Linked DNA regions of Homo sapiens: region 1 is linked to region 2. The links come from fine-mapping of genetic effects on gene expression. Tissue or cell type: whole blood. Region 2 holds a variant in brackets; the other region holds the start of a gene. All regions are shown on one strand. Distances are from middle to middle.

The links. PIP is the estimated chance that this variant, and not a neighbour inherited with it, causes the effect.
Region 1: LY75 starts here. The variant in region 2 is fine-mapped to the expression of LY75 in whole blood (TOPMed, PIP above 0.99).

The regions. Positions count from the first base shown.
Region 1 is chr2:159,900,841-159,908,936 of GRCh38, forward strand. LY75 (lymphocyte antigen 75) reads right to left here and starts at 3,916. Exons shown (of 35, transcript NM_002349.4): 1 at 3,749-3,916. The coding sequence starts at 3,842. LY75-CD302 (LY75-CD302 readthrough) reads right to left here and starts at 3,916. Exons shown (of 38, transcript NM_001198760.1): 1 at 3,749-3,916. The coding sequence starts at 3,842. RefSeq lists enhancers at 2,828-2,877, 2,928-2,977, 3,198-3,247, 3,388-3,467 and silencers at 3,648-4,107, 3,877-4,118.
Region 2 is chr2:159,854,075-159,862,181 of GRCh38, forward strand. LY75-CD302 (LY75-CD302 readthrough) reads right to left here. Exons shown (of 38, transcript NM_001198760.1): 15 at 6,747-6,815; 16 at 4,288-4,402; 17 at 830-865; 18 at 286-461. LY75 (lymphocyte antigen 75) reads right to left here. Exons shown (of 35, transcript NM_002349.4): 15 at 6,747-6,815; 16 at 4,288-4,402; 17 at 830-865; 18 at 286-461. Among named protein-coding and RNA genes, the nearest start is that of LY75, 47 kb to the right of the region's middle. The variant C/T (reference allele first, on the strand shown) is at 4,373.

The sequences.
Region 1 (8,096 bases), 47 kb after region 2:
TCACACTTTTTTTTTTGAGATGGAGTCTTGCTCTGTTGCCCAGGCTGGAGTGCAGTGGCACAATCTCAGCTAACTGCAACCTCCGCCTCCCAGGTTCAAGTGATTCTCATGCCCCAGCCTCCCAAGTAGCTGAGATTACAGGTGCCTGCCACCACACCCGGGTAATTTTTGTATTTTTAGTAGAGATGGGGTTTCACCATGTTGGCCAAGCTGGTCTCGAACTCCTGACCTCAGGTGATCCACCCACTTCGGCCTCCCAAAATGCTGGGATTATAGGCATGAGATACCGTGCCCAGCCACATCCCTCACACTTTCTTCTTTGACATTCCTCTGCCATTTTCTACTTGATGGACACAGGCTGGGAAGACAGTCAACAAAAAAGGAAAATGTGCTATAAGATTACTACTCACACTTTCTCTCATGGCCTTCTCCCACAATTCAATAGCTACTCAGATCTCTGATCTACATCTTTTCCAAAGTATTCTCTCTTGCCTCTCCAAAATAAATCTTGCATTCCAAAGTATCAAAAATTACAGAAGAAAAAAGAAGTCTGCTCCTGCAGGAGACGTGCCCATCACCCTTGTTGGAAACAGCCCCTCTCCTGCCCTGTAGTCTTGCTGCTGTCTTTCCCGGGCATTCTGCTTTGTGTGCTGGATCCCAAACAGGTGAACTGGGGAAGCAGCAGCTTTGCCTTCCTTTGCAGTTTGCAGTTCTGGATTTTTCAAAATTTTTGTAGAATCCAATGGATTAGCTACATTTCTTTATACAGTGGAAAAAGCAGGAGTTAGGAGTCCGAGATTGAAACACTAAAACACTACAGGAGAGGTGTGGAGTAGCTATGTTAAAGTGGAGCTGCCAAACTTCCTAACAAACTGCTACATCTCTGAATATAGATGTTTTTCTCAGACTAATCCCTTGTTTGAACCAAGTATGCAATTTCAATGTGACACTTATAGTGGTCACTTAGTACAGATCTTAATTATTGATATACTTAAAGGAAACTTATTAGCCTCCATATATAAGGTATGTATAAACATACATTAGATAGGGAGAGTCCTATCCTTTCATGATGCTTCCCCGTATCTTTCTTTAACCTTAGCAGGAGCTGTTGAAACTGCCTCAGTCTTACGACCCTTATTGGGATAGTAGGTTGAAGAGCTGGAAGGAGGACTGAGAAAGTGTGAACATAATCCCTTATTTAGAAAATTTGGTACAGAAGGGCATATAAGCTATTTTAGAAATATACTTTGAAAAGGTAATTACAGAGTAGATTTTATTGTATAAAACTTATTTTATAAAATAGATTCTTTATCAATAGCTTTCTACTGGGTTTTGTTCACTTTACAACTTTATACCAGTCCTCAATGGAGTTTTAATATTTACCTCCAAGTACAATATTGGGGCAAATCTAAAAGGCAGAAGTTGATGAAGAGAAGCCTCATTACCCCCTAGATGCATTTTGTATATGCTTCATGTTATATAAATTCTCCAGTGGTGTTTGAGAGAAAATGGCTAAGTAGCATTACCATAAATTGAAAATAAATTTTTAGTATTTTTACATCCATCAAAGGCAAATCATCTCTTTCAGTGTTTTCTTATTGTCTGATCACTAAATAATTCCTGCCTTTGGTCCCTAGACCAAAGAGCTTCACACATTCCAAAGAGAAGCTGGATATTGACATTTATAACCACAGACAAATGGATAGGGAAATAGCTTGGGAAAACAAGAAGGATGAAGATGGCAGCATTTATAATTTCAGGGGAACCGTCCATAGATCACATATTAAGCATTTTGTAGAGTCTCTACCATGTGTTCGGAATGTACAGGTAGGTGCAGCAAGAGAGAATCAGAAGTCTAGGTTTGTTAGTTCAAAAACAGGTCCTGAAGTGACAGTTGAGTCCATGGCAATGTCCAGGGAGTCAGAAAGTCTTCACGCACGATTGGGTGGTGTTGGCTGGTGAAAACCTCAGGAGTCCCTGATGGATTGGTTTACTTCAAGCTGTTAGCTCTCCAAGCAGGCAAAAATGTAAACTAAGCACCTGGCATCTCTCCAAGGACACAGAGGGGCTCCTTCAGTGTTTGGGTAATAGAGGCCACCTGCACAAGCCTAGCCGTGCACATGTGACGAGGTGCATGCCATCACCAGCATCATGAAGCGGACACTCTTGCCAAACAATTGACCCAAATGGCTGGGGGTTCAAAATTCCAGTGCTTCCCCAAACAAGGCCACAAGTCTGCTCTGAGGGTGAGAGAAAATCGATCAGAGTAGCTGCTAGGAGTAAGGAAGGATACAGGATAACAAAACCTGTGGGGACCTAGCACAGGGGGAACAGAGTTAAACCTGGTGCTTTTTGCTTTGGGTCAGTGATAAAGGGCAGTGATTGCAGAGATTGCAAGAATTAGGGAAATCCTGAAATTTGTGAAGGAGATAAAAACAGGACTGAAGCAGATGTCGATGGGAACCAAGAGGTTAGTGATTGAAAAGTTAGTGCATTTTCACTGTAGTTAGTTGCTGCAGTGAACTTTTCCACCTTGGATTGTGGGGCAGGCAGAATAAATTATCAAGGCAATAAAGGATCTTATTTTAAAGGATTCTTTTGGTAGTTCCTAGCACACAGGGTCAAAGGAGAATAGAGAAGTGTGACTCAGAGCAGGGTTCATTTCCAGGTCCTTGCTGTAGATAGGATGATGCCATTCACACTCTGAGAAATCTCTTCCCATCGCTCTCCGAAGGAAGTCTAAACCAGATGGTAACTTAGCTTAGCTGCAAAGAAAATAAGAGCCACCAACAATTTAATGTTTTTCAAACTGCCTGGACAATCTTTTCCTTCCTCATACAGGCACGATAACAGAAGTGGCCGGTGGAGGGTGGCCCATTGAGTGCCCATGATGCAGTCCAACCAAGAAACAAAGTTCTCTGCACACCCCTCGCCCAGGCAAAAAGAGAAAGTAAAAGCAACCGGTTGCTGCCAAGGGGTGTGGTGTGGTGGGGCTGGCACTACCCTGAACATCAATGAAGGCTGTCTGTTTCTGGTCCTGCTTCCGCAGTGAGAGGCAGCAGGTCCCCAAGCAGGCGACCTGCCCTTCACCGTGAGGCTGTCAGCCTTGGGGGAGCGGGGTCATTTGGAGCTGATAAACCAATGAGAAGAAAGGTTTGTTGCTCTAGGCGGTGGGTGAGGGCATCATAGCTGACTCTTGGTCTTGGTCACTTTCGGAGGAGATGGTTTATTTAACCTGACTTCCTTCCTGATGCGCACCGTAGGCGCAGTGAAATCCGGGAATCGTGGGGAATCCTTGGCGCTGTGGGTGGAGGCTCCTCTTGGCCCTGTGGCCAAGGTGACCAAGGGCCGAAGGAAAAGCGAGAACGGGAGGGACGGGACGCAAGAGGGCAGATGGGGAACCCCATACTCCAGCAACATTATATAAGAGAGGCGACGATGGAGCAGCGCACCCGGCCAAAAAAGCCTCCGTGCGCCTACTCTACGGTGCACCGCGTCCCCTCTGCACCAGAAGGGCCCTGTCCTCCCACATCCACCGCGCCCTCCTCCGGGCCCCCGAGGGCACTGGGGCGCTTCCTCTGCCAGACCTCCCCTGCGACTCACTCTTCCGGCTCCAGAGCCCCCCCGCCCCAACAGCAAAGCAGCCGTGACCTGCCCCAGGGGCGCAGCCCTGCCCCAGGCTGGAAGGCAGCAGAGCTGTGGCGTCGAGGCACCCAGCGGACTGCGGGGCTGGCGTGCCCGCGGTTACCTGCGCGGCCAGAGGGCTCCGCGAGATCGAAGAACCAGAAGAGCAGCATGAGGAGCCCCGCCGGGCGGCGAGGGGTCGCCCAGCCTGTCCTCATCCTGAGCTGGCGCAAGCCTTCCGGCCGGGTCCTCGGGCGCACGCGGCTCCCGCCCCGCCTGCTGAGCGCGGCCTGCCCCGCCCGCACCTCTGTCTAGGCCTCTGGGGGCGCCCCGGCCCCGCCCCCGCCGCCCTCGGCCAATCAGACGTGCGTCTCCTCGGCCCCGGGGCGGAGCGGGCCAGGTGTGGGAAATGAACAGGGCTGGGCGCTAGATACCTGCGTGGGGTAGGACCCGCGAGGAAGAGGTACGTGCGGATCGGTGGGAGAGCCAGGCACCAGACAGGCTCCTGCACTGGAGGGTTCGGTCCCCGCCTCTTCATCAGCCAAGCTGGGGAGATGCGGCCCTTACTGGGACTTGGCACCGCCCTGGTGGGTGGGTTCTATCAGTTTAGAACCTTGGCCTCTGCCTGGCGCACTGTGGTCAGGGACGACTTCTCCATTCCAGCCTGGACTGGAAAGGGACCCATGATCTCTTCTACCCCGGAGGAGGAAGTGAGCACCTGCCCTGTGGGTGGCTGCGGCCAAGCCTAAGAATTCAGTCGTCCTTGGCAACGTCTTGGGTATTTTGACAGTGCAAACAAAGGTGGAATAATGGTACACTGCAGTTCTACCCATAGTTGTTAAAGAATTAAAAGCAAGAATTACTAGAATGACCAAACGACACTTCCAAGGATGACTTATGCTTTATAAAAAGTTGACCTTTGCGAGTAAGCTCTTTGCTTAATAATTTAATGATAATAATAATTAGCTGGTAGAAATGTAGAAGTCTGCATGCAGAACCAGAAATTTCATGTCCCACTCACTCTCTTCCTGTGGACACTGCTATCATTATAAAGAGGCCAAATTCTTAATGACCTAAGTTGCTCAAATGTGAATGTTTTATACTTTTAAATCTCGTCTTTGCTGAGCACATAATGTGTACTTGAGGTGGCCTCCATCCTTGTTGCATGAGGATGCAAAGACCTAGGTTGCTCTTCCTGACTCCCACTGCCAAGGTTTCACAGTTGGCTCCCAAACCTGCTCTGTCCTCTCCCCAGGGTCTGGCCTTTCAGTTCCATAGATATAGTGAGCACCTGCCATCACAGGATCTGGGCACGCCATGGAACAGAAGGACAAAAAGACAACATCTCTGCCCTCCCCTGAATACTGGGGAGACTGAGGCACTGTGATGGATAATATTGTCAGCTCGATTGATATGAACGAATGCAAAGTATTGTTCCTGGGTGTGTCTGTGAGGGTGTTGCCAAGGAGATTAACAGTGGACTGGGAGAGGCGGACCAGCCCTCAGTCTGGGTGGGCACCATCTCATCAGCTGCCAGCATGGCTAGAATAAAAGCAGGCAGAAGTTGGAAGGACTTGACTGGCTGAGTCTCCTGGCCTTCACCTTTCTCCCGTGCTAGATGCTTCCTACCCTCGAACATCGGACTCCAGGTTCTTCAGCTTTTGGACTCTTAGACCTATAAAAGTGGTTTGTCAGGGGATCTCTGGCCTTCGGCCACAGACTGAAGGCTGCACTGTTGGCTTCCCTACTTCTGAGGTTTTGGAACTCGGACTGGCTTCTTTGTTCCTCAGCTTGCAGACAGCCTATTGTGGGACTTCACCTTGTGATCATATGAGTCAATACTCCTTAATAAACTCCCTTTCATATATACATGTATCCTATTAGTCCTGTCCCTCTAGAGAACCCTAATACAGGCACACTCAGTGACACAGGGCAGAATGAATGGGGAAACTCTGACAAATGTTGAGGGAAGGCAACATCTTAGCTGGGTCTTAAAGAATGGGTAGGAATTTGAGCAGGCACAGCTGGTGGGAGAAAACCAGTGACAGGGCAGAGGCCAGAAAATGCAAGCAGAGTCAGAAGACAGTCCAGAGTCCAGGGTAGCTGCCCTGCGGGGGGTGTGTCTGTGAGAGAGATCAAAGTGGTTGTGGTGGGGGCCCCAGTGGAAATGACAGCAGAAAGGTGAGTTGTGTCTGTTTTGTGAAGGGCCTTGAATTTATTCTAAGGCACAGATGGTGGGAAGTTCTGAGTAGGAGAACCTGCCACTGACCTGATCCCCTCTGCCTCTGTGGCTGCCTGCCTTTCTTTCTGATCCTGCCCAGCTTGGAGCTCCTTGAGGGCAGTGGTCTTGCCGTATTCATTATCACATCCTCAACACTGGGCACAGGGCCTGTCCCAAAGTCAGCTCTCAATAAATGTTAGTTTAATCGATGGATGGATTCCTAGGGCCACCACCTTAGCCTAGGGCCATATGAGCTCCTACTTGCATTATATTGCAATAATTTATCAATTGACCTCACTGCCAACAGTTATTATCCTCTCTGGCAAATGAATCCTTCTAAACACTGTTTGGAACATGCCACTTTTCTACTCAAATCCTTTCAGTGCTATTTGCATATAGCAGGAGCTCCTAAATGCTACTTAAGGGAAATTATGAAACCCTGAAATTTTATGCAGCTTTATAAATGCACTATGTTTTGAGGAGGAGGAGGAAGGGTACAAGGCTTTCATGAGAATCCCAGAGAAGCCCATGATACAAAAAGAAAACTCTAAGACAAAAAGCAAGTACCTCTACAATTTGACCCTTTCTCTTTCTTTGAGATGGAGTTTCACTCTTGTTGCCCAGGCTGGAGTGCAATGGCGCGATCTCAGCTCACTGCAACCTCCGCCTCCTGGGTTCAAACGATTCTCCTGCCTCATCCTCCTGAGTAGCTGGGATTACGGGCATGCATCACCACGGCCAGGCTAATTTTGTATTTTTATTAGAGACAGGGTTTCTCCATGTTGGTCAGGCTGGTCTCGAACTCCTGACCTCAGGTGATCCGCCCGCCTCAGCCTCCAAAAGTGCTGGAATTACAGTTGTGAACCACCGTGCCTGGCCTAATCTGACCCTTTCTCTTTACTCCCTTCATATGTCACTCTTTGGTTCAAGCTACCTGTCTGAACCTGTCTTGCCTTTTCTTATCTCTGCCCATATATGCATATCCAGAATGCCATTTTCCCTTTGTCTTAGTTCCAACCTTTCTTGAAGTTTCTGTTTAGATCTGACATTTTACGTAAAACACTTCTACCAAGGGGTTAACCTTCTTCCAAATATCTACCTAATAGTGTGAATTCCTTTCACTTGGTATTTAACATGTATTACCTCTTGCCACGATTTTTTCTTCAGGGACATGTGCACTGATTATTTCACCTAGGTTATAGATTCTCAGTAAATATTGTCAATGGTGACAATAAAAAGCAATGTGTCCTTCAGGTCTCACCTTGGACGTTACTTTCTCAAAGAAATTTTTTTTTTTGACTCTACAGTCTAGGTGAGCTTCCTCTATAACAGGTTCTCCAGGCTTCCCACACTTCTTCCTGATAGCACTTAGCACAGCTGGAGTAGATCATTCTGTGCTTGCTCATTTGTTTAATGTGTATCTCCCTCACCAGGCTGCAGGCTCCATGAAGACAGTGACTATGCCTGCTTCATTCACTTCTGTGTCCCTAATACCTGGCACATGATTTGCTGCATGAATGAATAAGTAAATATATAGTAATACCTCATAAATGATGCAGGCAATGGAAGGTCTAGACATTTAAAAGAGGGGAAAATTGGCTTGGGTGGGGGCAGCAGTTTTCAGGCATTGAACTGGATGTCCTTGGATGAGAAGCATTCAGTAGATAGAGGCAATGAAGATGCTACAAGCTGAGACAATGGTATAAACAAATTACAAACATCGGCCACCCACTGGAAGCCAGACCATGTGCTAAGCATTTCCCATGTACTCTCTTGTTTAGGAATCATCCTACAAAGTAAGTACTCCTATAATCCTCATTTTATAAATGTGGAAACTAAGACAACACAGAGAAGACTGATACCTAGACCAGGTTAGTAGCCACAAGTGAAGACACTATGATGGAAATCTAACTATAGAACTTGAATGAGTGTGTGAGAGTGTTAGTGATATTTTATTCCCAATCACAATTAGGGAGGAGGGGAAAAGGAGCTTTTAGAATCTCTGAAGTCACGTTTTTTAATTATAAAATAAATCATACCCCAAAAAAGAATAGCTATGCTTGTTGGCCTCTTGTGGTCATATTCACCTTACTCCCACATAGAGGTAACCTCTCCTCTGAATTATTCATCACTGTTTCTTTACCGTTTTCCCATATATGATTCATTCCTTAAAGAGTACCTATAATTTTACATGTTTTTGAATTTTATGTAAATGAATCATTTCAAGGGTTGGGTTTTTTTTGTCACTTGT
Region 2 (8,107 bases):
TAAAGTTGACTTTTAGTAAAAAATGTGACAGGAAATTAGAATGATCTATATTATCTACTGATGTTTACCTTATAAAGTGACATTTATTATTAATCTTGTATATTTTAAAACATAAGCAATTCTACTTAATTTTTCTAACATGAAACAAATTTGGATGCTGTGAGGCAGATTTTACATTAAAGAAAAATTTAACTTTTGTAGATTTTGGCAAAATTTTTGTAATATTTTTAAATGGAATAAATACAAAAATAAGAAATATATTTAAAATATATTCTTTTAAATTACATTTGCTATTTTGTTTTTGATGGCTTTTAGTCCCACAAAAGATGTTATAGTTGCAAGAAAGCTGTGATTGCTGGCACAGTACAGGACGGCTTCTTCATAGTTTAGGTGAAGATCAGCAACAAACCAATATTCACTTCCTTCAATTATAAGTGGAGGTCCATGAATTCCAGCACGGTCTAAAGAAGAAGAAGAAAAAGATTAGAATTATGACTATGCAAAGCAAACTGTGTCCTCTAAGCATGAGTTAATGTTCAAAACTATAAATAGTAATTCAGATTACCGGCCCTCTCTGGCTGGGGCAGTACTGACTACAAGGAACAAGAGATTCCTGAGCCAGTGACTCTGCCACTCCCCTACACTCACAGGGAAGGAAAAAGTCACCCTCATCACCTCATCCCATACCAGTCGCTCACCTTCCTTGCCTGGAGAAATTTTGTCTCACTTGAAGATGTATAGAGAAGAAGCTGGCACTTAAATAATTAACTAAATGCATTAGTGACAAGGTAAAAGCAGCTTTGGTTAAATTTCAGTTTTCTTAACTCACCTGGATTGTACCAGTCTGGTGTTTTTGGAGTACGGCCTGTATGAGGAAGAAAGCAAGTGGCATTAGTATTCCATGACAGATCAGGGTATACTATAAGTACGGCCTTTAATGTAGCTCGAAAGGACTTGCAGTATTGTTGAGTCTTGTCCATTTCTGGCCAACCCACTTCACGTTTTGATCACTTTAGTTGTATTTTGTAGGGCCGATGCTAAACCTGCTTCAGGAGAAATCCAAAAGGCAGATACGTTAAATATTAATGAAGTATTTCTAGCAGTCTTTTACCTTGTGTCACAGAGGTCACAAAAGAAGTAAGACAGATAAAATATAGCTAAGAATTAGAAAGTAAAAACAAGTAAATAATGATATTGTATGTGTTACACAGAAGCATAAGAAGTAGGAACCAAAATAACGGTCATTGAAAAGGGAAGTTATTCAGGAACCACTTCTGCATCTAATGAAACAGGTTAACTGTTCTGTAAACTTAGGTTGATAGAGTTCATTGTCTTCCAAGATATCCTTGGAAACAATGTACAATGCTCCAGTGTTGAACCTTTTGAGAAGATGAGACAAAACTGAGAGGAAAATAATTAAAAGTGACTCAGGATTCCCAGATGGAAACGGAGTAAATAATGGCATGCTACACAGAATTCCGGGTTGGAAGCTGGGCGGGTCAGTGTGCAAATGCCCTTATGCATTTTGCTGCCATGGTATTTCGGATGAGTGGCTTAACCCTCTCTGAGCCTTGATTTTCTCCTCTATGAAAACTAGATGGCTACCTGACTCACAGAGAGTGAAGGTCACGTGTGATGCCCTGGAGGAAGTGGCCAGCACAGGACCAGGCACAGGGAAGTTCCCCATGGGAGCCTATTTGCGTTCCTCCCCCTTTTCATTCTGGCCACAGATCACACTGGCTTCAAGTCAAAGACATCATTTGCTTAATCTTAGAAATTACAGAGTAAAATAGCTGGTCTTAATTTTGGTGTGGCATGTGAGCCTCAGGCAGGCATCAGAAGACCTGACTCAGAGGACTGCCTGAATAGCCAGCATCTTTAGTCTCTCTCTGAGCCAGTTCTATTCGTATTGGATAATTTCCAACAATAATGTTGCAAGTCAGTTCAAAATGTACATAGTTTCTTGTCTGTAATCTTGTCAAAGACTTCTGATTATTTGTGTGTGGGGGAGGGAAAGCTATGGCTAACCTTTAAATATCTTTAAATTAGTGAGAAAAGTAGGATGCAAGGTGTTTTTTATACAAGATTGCAAACATGTATGTGTGTACAAGGTATCAAGAAATACAATAAAAATTGCTATGTCTGGGTAATGGCATCATAGGTAATTTTCCTAAAAACACTTTTATGAGCCTTATTTTTGACACAGTTTTCTCAAAAAATAATATTTAAAAAGTACAAATATCCACTGTGGTTGAGGTAACTTCAAATTTACAGGTTGTCAAAATATCTCTTTTAGGGAAGAGAGGATTAATTAGAACCAAGTAATAAAAAGGCAAGAGCCAGAGAAGAGGCATGGTGATTTAGAATACATAAGAGGAAAACTTCTTTAAGAAAACCAGAAAATACAGATGAATACAAGTTGAGTAAACTTAGGCTGCTCTAATAACCAAGAAAATATCCAACCAGCTGAATGCATCACATCGTAACTTAGAAAGTTAGGTACAGTACGGTCAAAAAAGGGTGAACATAACATTTAAACCCTGGAGCAAGCAATCATTGATTTCTTCAAGTGATTGGGACAGGCTGAGAACAGGAGTTTAGTTTTTTATTTTATTTCTGCATGGGGATAATGGAGGTGGAATTATTTAGATTTGTTCGATTAATTGATTTATATTTTTAAGTGGGTTAATTCCTTTCTCTCTTGTTAAAAAATATATATTAAAAAAAATATATATACACCTCCACATGCCCTTCATACTATTTCCTCTGGTGGCTAATTTGCCATTTCTAAGGTTGCCCTTGTTTAAACTCTGGGGTCTGCTCCACTGCTCAAACAGGAGGTGGGGGCAGCAGCTCCCATCGAGGGCACTTTGGTTGGAACAATGACACTGTCTGTGGAATGCTAACAAATGCCAGAGAGTAATGGGAGGCTCACATTAACACTTCAAAACAGAGACATTGTCCGAATTAATTATATACAAGTTACTTTTCCACTTGTTTAAAGGATATCCAAACTGGTTTTCCTTTGTCCCTTTTTTGGGTTTAATAAAATAATCAAGAATAACTTAGGCATAATTTATCCTTTAGAAAAACCCATCAACACAACTGTCTTTCCCTTACAACTGGTTTGACAGTTTGCCTTTGTGAAAGAGATTTGCTACTACCTGATGTCACATCTGAAGCTCTTTTAACTATTTTAGGAATAACAATCTTCTAATAGGCAGTTCCATGATGTGAACTTTGGGTTCTTTGAGAACTTGTAGGAGGATATACCTTTAGTTTCAATGATCTGTTTACATTCAGTTCAGAGATTTCTTTAAAAACCTTCTATGGGTTTTCTGCTAATTAATTTCATACAGCCAATCTCTGCTTAAAAATAATTTGAGGCTGGGTGCAGTGGCTCATGCCTGTAATTCTAGCACTTTGGGAGGCTGAGGCGGGCCAATCACCTGAGGTCAGGAGTTCGAGACCAGCTTGGCCAACATGGTGAAACCCTGACTCTACTGAAAATACAAAAATTGGCTAGGTGCGGTAGTGGGTGCCTGTAGTCCCAGCTACGCCAGTGGCTGAGGCAGGAGAATCACTTGAACCTGGGAGGCAGAGGCTGCAGTGAGCCAAGATTGTGCTACTGCACTCCAGCCTGGAAGACTGAGCAAGACTGTCTTAAAAAATAATAATAATAATTTGAGAATTAAAGTCTTAACATTTTTCTTAATATTTCATGTTTTCCTGGAAAAAGTAAAGTAAAATGGTATCTACATTTCTCCCCACTCTCCCTTCTGTTATCAAAGGCTATACTATCAATCTAACTGGCTTCTCAAATTTGAATTTATATAAAGTATTAGCAGTTTTATAGTTCATTGAAAATTGCTTCTAAATTTTACAGGGACCTGCCAAATTTTTATTTCTTGACTTCTGCCTTATTCTTCCCAAGATTATCTTTATTTTTTCATTTTGCATCAAAATAAAAACGAAAATGATTCTGCATTTCTCCTTTTGCTTAAAATAATATTTCATCCAAAATCTAATCTCCCTGAATGAGCCTCACATTTTATCTTCTATGCAAATTCTTCCATGATCAAAGAGTAAGATATCACTAAATTTCAATAAGCTAGCCTTCTATTAGAAGCCGGAGTCAGGCAGGGGGTGCTCCACATATTAATTGCATCATCATCATAGGCTTTTAGACATCAGAATTATAGATCAAAATGCTCCCCTAGCTACTTTGAGCTAGGCATTCACAATGTTAACATGAGAAGGTTGTGAAAAGGAATAACTACCACTTACCTTTTGGAATTTGGCACACCCATTCAAGTTTTGTATCACAAGCAAAAGGCCTCAAATAAATAAATTCTCTATCATCATAGAAATG[C/T]CAGCCTCTTCGCCATGGCCTATGAAATACCTATAAGAGGAAAAGTATTGCAGAATATTTTGAAGTTGATACATCCCTTATGGAACACTAAACTGTAAGCCCTATGACTTTGATCTCTATTTTAGCTCTAGCACCTAAGATATTTGTTCGATAAATGAACACATGAATTAATGGAATATTTAAACAGTAATACCCTGAGCAAGAGCCCTCAAAGGGGCTAACAAAGGAAATATGTTGTAAAGTCATGTTTATGTCCAAAATGCAAATTTTCTCCCCCACACCTGACAATTTTTGTTAGAATATTTATTTCAGAGGTATCCAAGCACCAAGCTGTGATCAAATTAGATCAGAAAGCGACATAAAGGTCCAGCCTCAGTGGCTCAGGCTCCTTCTCTGGTGTTACCATGCCATTTCTAGGATTTTGCCCTTCTCCACATGGTCCAGGATGGCTCATTACAAATTCCAGTCAGCAAGTAGGATAAAAAGGATAGGGGAAGGCATTACTTGGGAGAGACATCCATCACTTCTTAGACTATTTTCTCTTAAGACCAAGTTTCTGGGGGTTCTGTGGCAGGTGAGGTAAGATTTTCCTTACAGAACACTGCCCTGGCTGGGCTTGTTCCTGATGCAGGTTGCATTAGTATCTCTTTATTTATTTGGTAGATTTTCAAATCTCTCCATACTTGGCAACTCTATTTCCCTAGAACACAGTTTATTGTACCAGTGTTCTCAACACTACTAAAAATTCCATAAGCTTCTCTGAAGTTTTCACCTTTTCCTGTGTTACATTGGGAATTCTATAAAAATGACATGTACTACACAGTTTATTACTAGAAGAGTTACTTTGAAAACAGTGCTTTCCTGTGGTTTTGTCAGTTCTTATATCCCTCAGCCTTCCTGTAACATTTCTGGTCAGCCACCTTGTTGAATCTCTTTCTTGGACTACAAATCAAAGATATTAACTGATGTCTCCTCCATCTTCATCTTTTTTCACTCTATATATTGGCAGTTCCTCCAAATCCACTTCTTGGCCCTTTTTTTAAAAATATACATTTTCCTTTCAACTCAAGACTCTTGATCTCAACTTACCATAGCATACATCTTATAGCTAGCTTGGATTCAAAATATCTGAACTAAAACATACAATTTTCTCATAAATCAATACCCTTTCTATTTCTATAAATGCCTAGTCATATAGCATAGTGGTTAAGAGTACCAGACCCAGACACACATGGGTGTAAATTTCAGTTCTTTCAGTTTAAATTTACTCCATGTAAGCTGGGGTAAATTACTCACAGCTCAAATTTCCATGTGAGATGAATACAGTAACAGTGCCTACCTCACAAGATTGCTTATGTGCTATGTGACATATGTGACATGCCTAGTATAGTGGCTGGCTCATAAAGGAGTTAATCAGTGTTAGCTGCTCCATCATCATCATCACCACCACCATGGACCATCACCATCACCATCCTTATTATTCTTTCATAATATTCTTGTTCTTGCATAAAACTTGTATTTCGCATGTCATAGTCTTTACTCAGTGGTGTTGTAATTGCTTGTTTACTTGTCTTTATTTCCTACTAGACTTTAGTTTTGTGAAGACAATGGCTATGCTTTGTACCTTGTCATTGTTCTATCACCCAGTGCCTCACTGACTCCTTGGACTGTTTATGAAATGGATACATGAATGCATTCTGCAAAGGAAGATGCCTCACTGGTCTTCTATGCCTTCCAATCTTACCTGTTGCTTTTGACATCTGTCTCAAGATGAATCTTCCTCATACCCTCCTTAGTTCATGTGACCCTCCCTACTCAGAAACTTTAAAAAATGCCCTGTTGCCTATCAAGAAGTGTAGAAATTCCTTAAAGTGGCATCAATCTGATTTCCTAATACTGTTATCAAGGACAGCACCAATGAAACTTCTTGATCTGTATTCTGTTCTCCACTGCCCTCTTCCACTTCCACCTTATTTTATACCACTTTCTCATACCATCCCCTCATGAAAAAACCTTACCCTATCCCATTTGTAGAAACTCTATCCATCCTTAAAGTCCCAGTTCAAGTCCCACCTCTTCCTGGGAAATGGCCATGGGACTCACTTTCTCCTCTGAATTTCATTAGCCTTCCTCAGCCCCCTCATTTGGAGCATATTACTGCGTGGTAATGAGAGAGGTTTTCTTGAATATGAATTTTATCCTCTCAAATGAAGTGTAAGTTAGGCTGCTGAGGGCCAGGCCATGGGTGTGCTTATCTCTCACTGCATCTAACATCATGCTTCACATAAAAAGACACTCCATGGATCTGTTACTTGACTGCATATGATGATGGACTTATGTTTTAAATATGCAGATTTTCCAGCATTGTACTGACCTTGACAGCAGCACAGTCTCTGATGTCATAATCCTGCTGAAACTCATTTGGCATGATAATAGTAGACACCTGAAAAGACAAGAGAGGCTTGAGAATTTAAGACTGATGTATAAATATTTGCAATTTAGATGTAATTTAGGCAGCCTTAATCACTCAAGTGCGTTGATATGCCACAGAAAGAAAACTTTTCCATCTCTTTTTTATATCATGATGCTAAATCATGAGAGGACTTAGCAAATGTCATAATGTCATAAGTTTCCAAACAAAGGAAGCCACAGTTTCAGAAGTGGAAGTTAATAGTGTATTAAGTTCGCCGCTGGAGTCATAGAGAATCAGGTTTGCAAAATACTTTTTTCTTTTTTTGCATGTGTTGAAATGCTCATTATTTGATTAACTAATCTCAGATATGCTCCAATTTGAAAATAAACTCAAGGAGTTTTACATTTAGAAAGAATAAAAAAGGAGGTGACATTGGAGTCACCAATTTTTGGTGACAAAAATTGGAGTAAATATTGAATATCTGAGAATAATTTTGCTCCTATAACTATTACACTAATATATCCTTATAATATAAATGTGGAATAATAGCAAGGATTTTCTAGAGGTTTCTCCAAACAAATAATTTCCTCCAATAAGGATACTTTTGGCCAGGCACAGTGACTCATGCTGGTAATCCCAGCACTTTGGGAGGCCAAGGTTGGCAGATGGCTTGAGCCCAGGAATTCGAGACCAGCCTGGGCAACATGGTGAAACCCCATCTCTACAAAAAATACAAAAATTAGCTGGATGTGGTGGCATGTGCCTGTACTTGAGAGGCTGAGACATGAGGATCAATTGAACCCAGGAGGTTGAGGCTGCAGTGAGTCATACTGGCACCACTGTATTCTAGCCTGGGTGACACAGTGAGACTCTGTCATCCCCACCTAGTCCCCCCAGAAAAAGATATTTTATTTTTTGTATAACTCTTCCATATTTAGATAATAAAAAGAAAAGCTTCTTACTATAAAAATGAAAATAAACAGTATAAAGAGAAAGCTTTGAAAACAATCACTTGTGGCCAGATGTGGCTCACACCTGTAATTCCAACACTTTGGGAGGCTAAGATGGGTAGACTGCCTGAGCTCAGGAGTTTGAGACCAGCCTGGGCAACATGGTGAAACCCTATCTCTACAAAAAAATATAAGAATTAGCTGGGCGTGGAAGGGCACGGTAGCTCACACCTGTAATCCCAGCACTTTGGGAGGCTGAGGCGGGTGGATCACAGGGTCAGGAGTTAGAGATCACCCTGGCCAATATGGTGAAACCCCATCTCTACTAAAAAATTAGTTGGGCGTGGTGGCACATGCCTGAAGTCCCAGCCA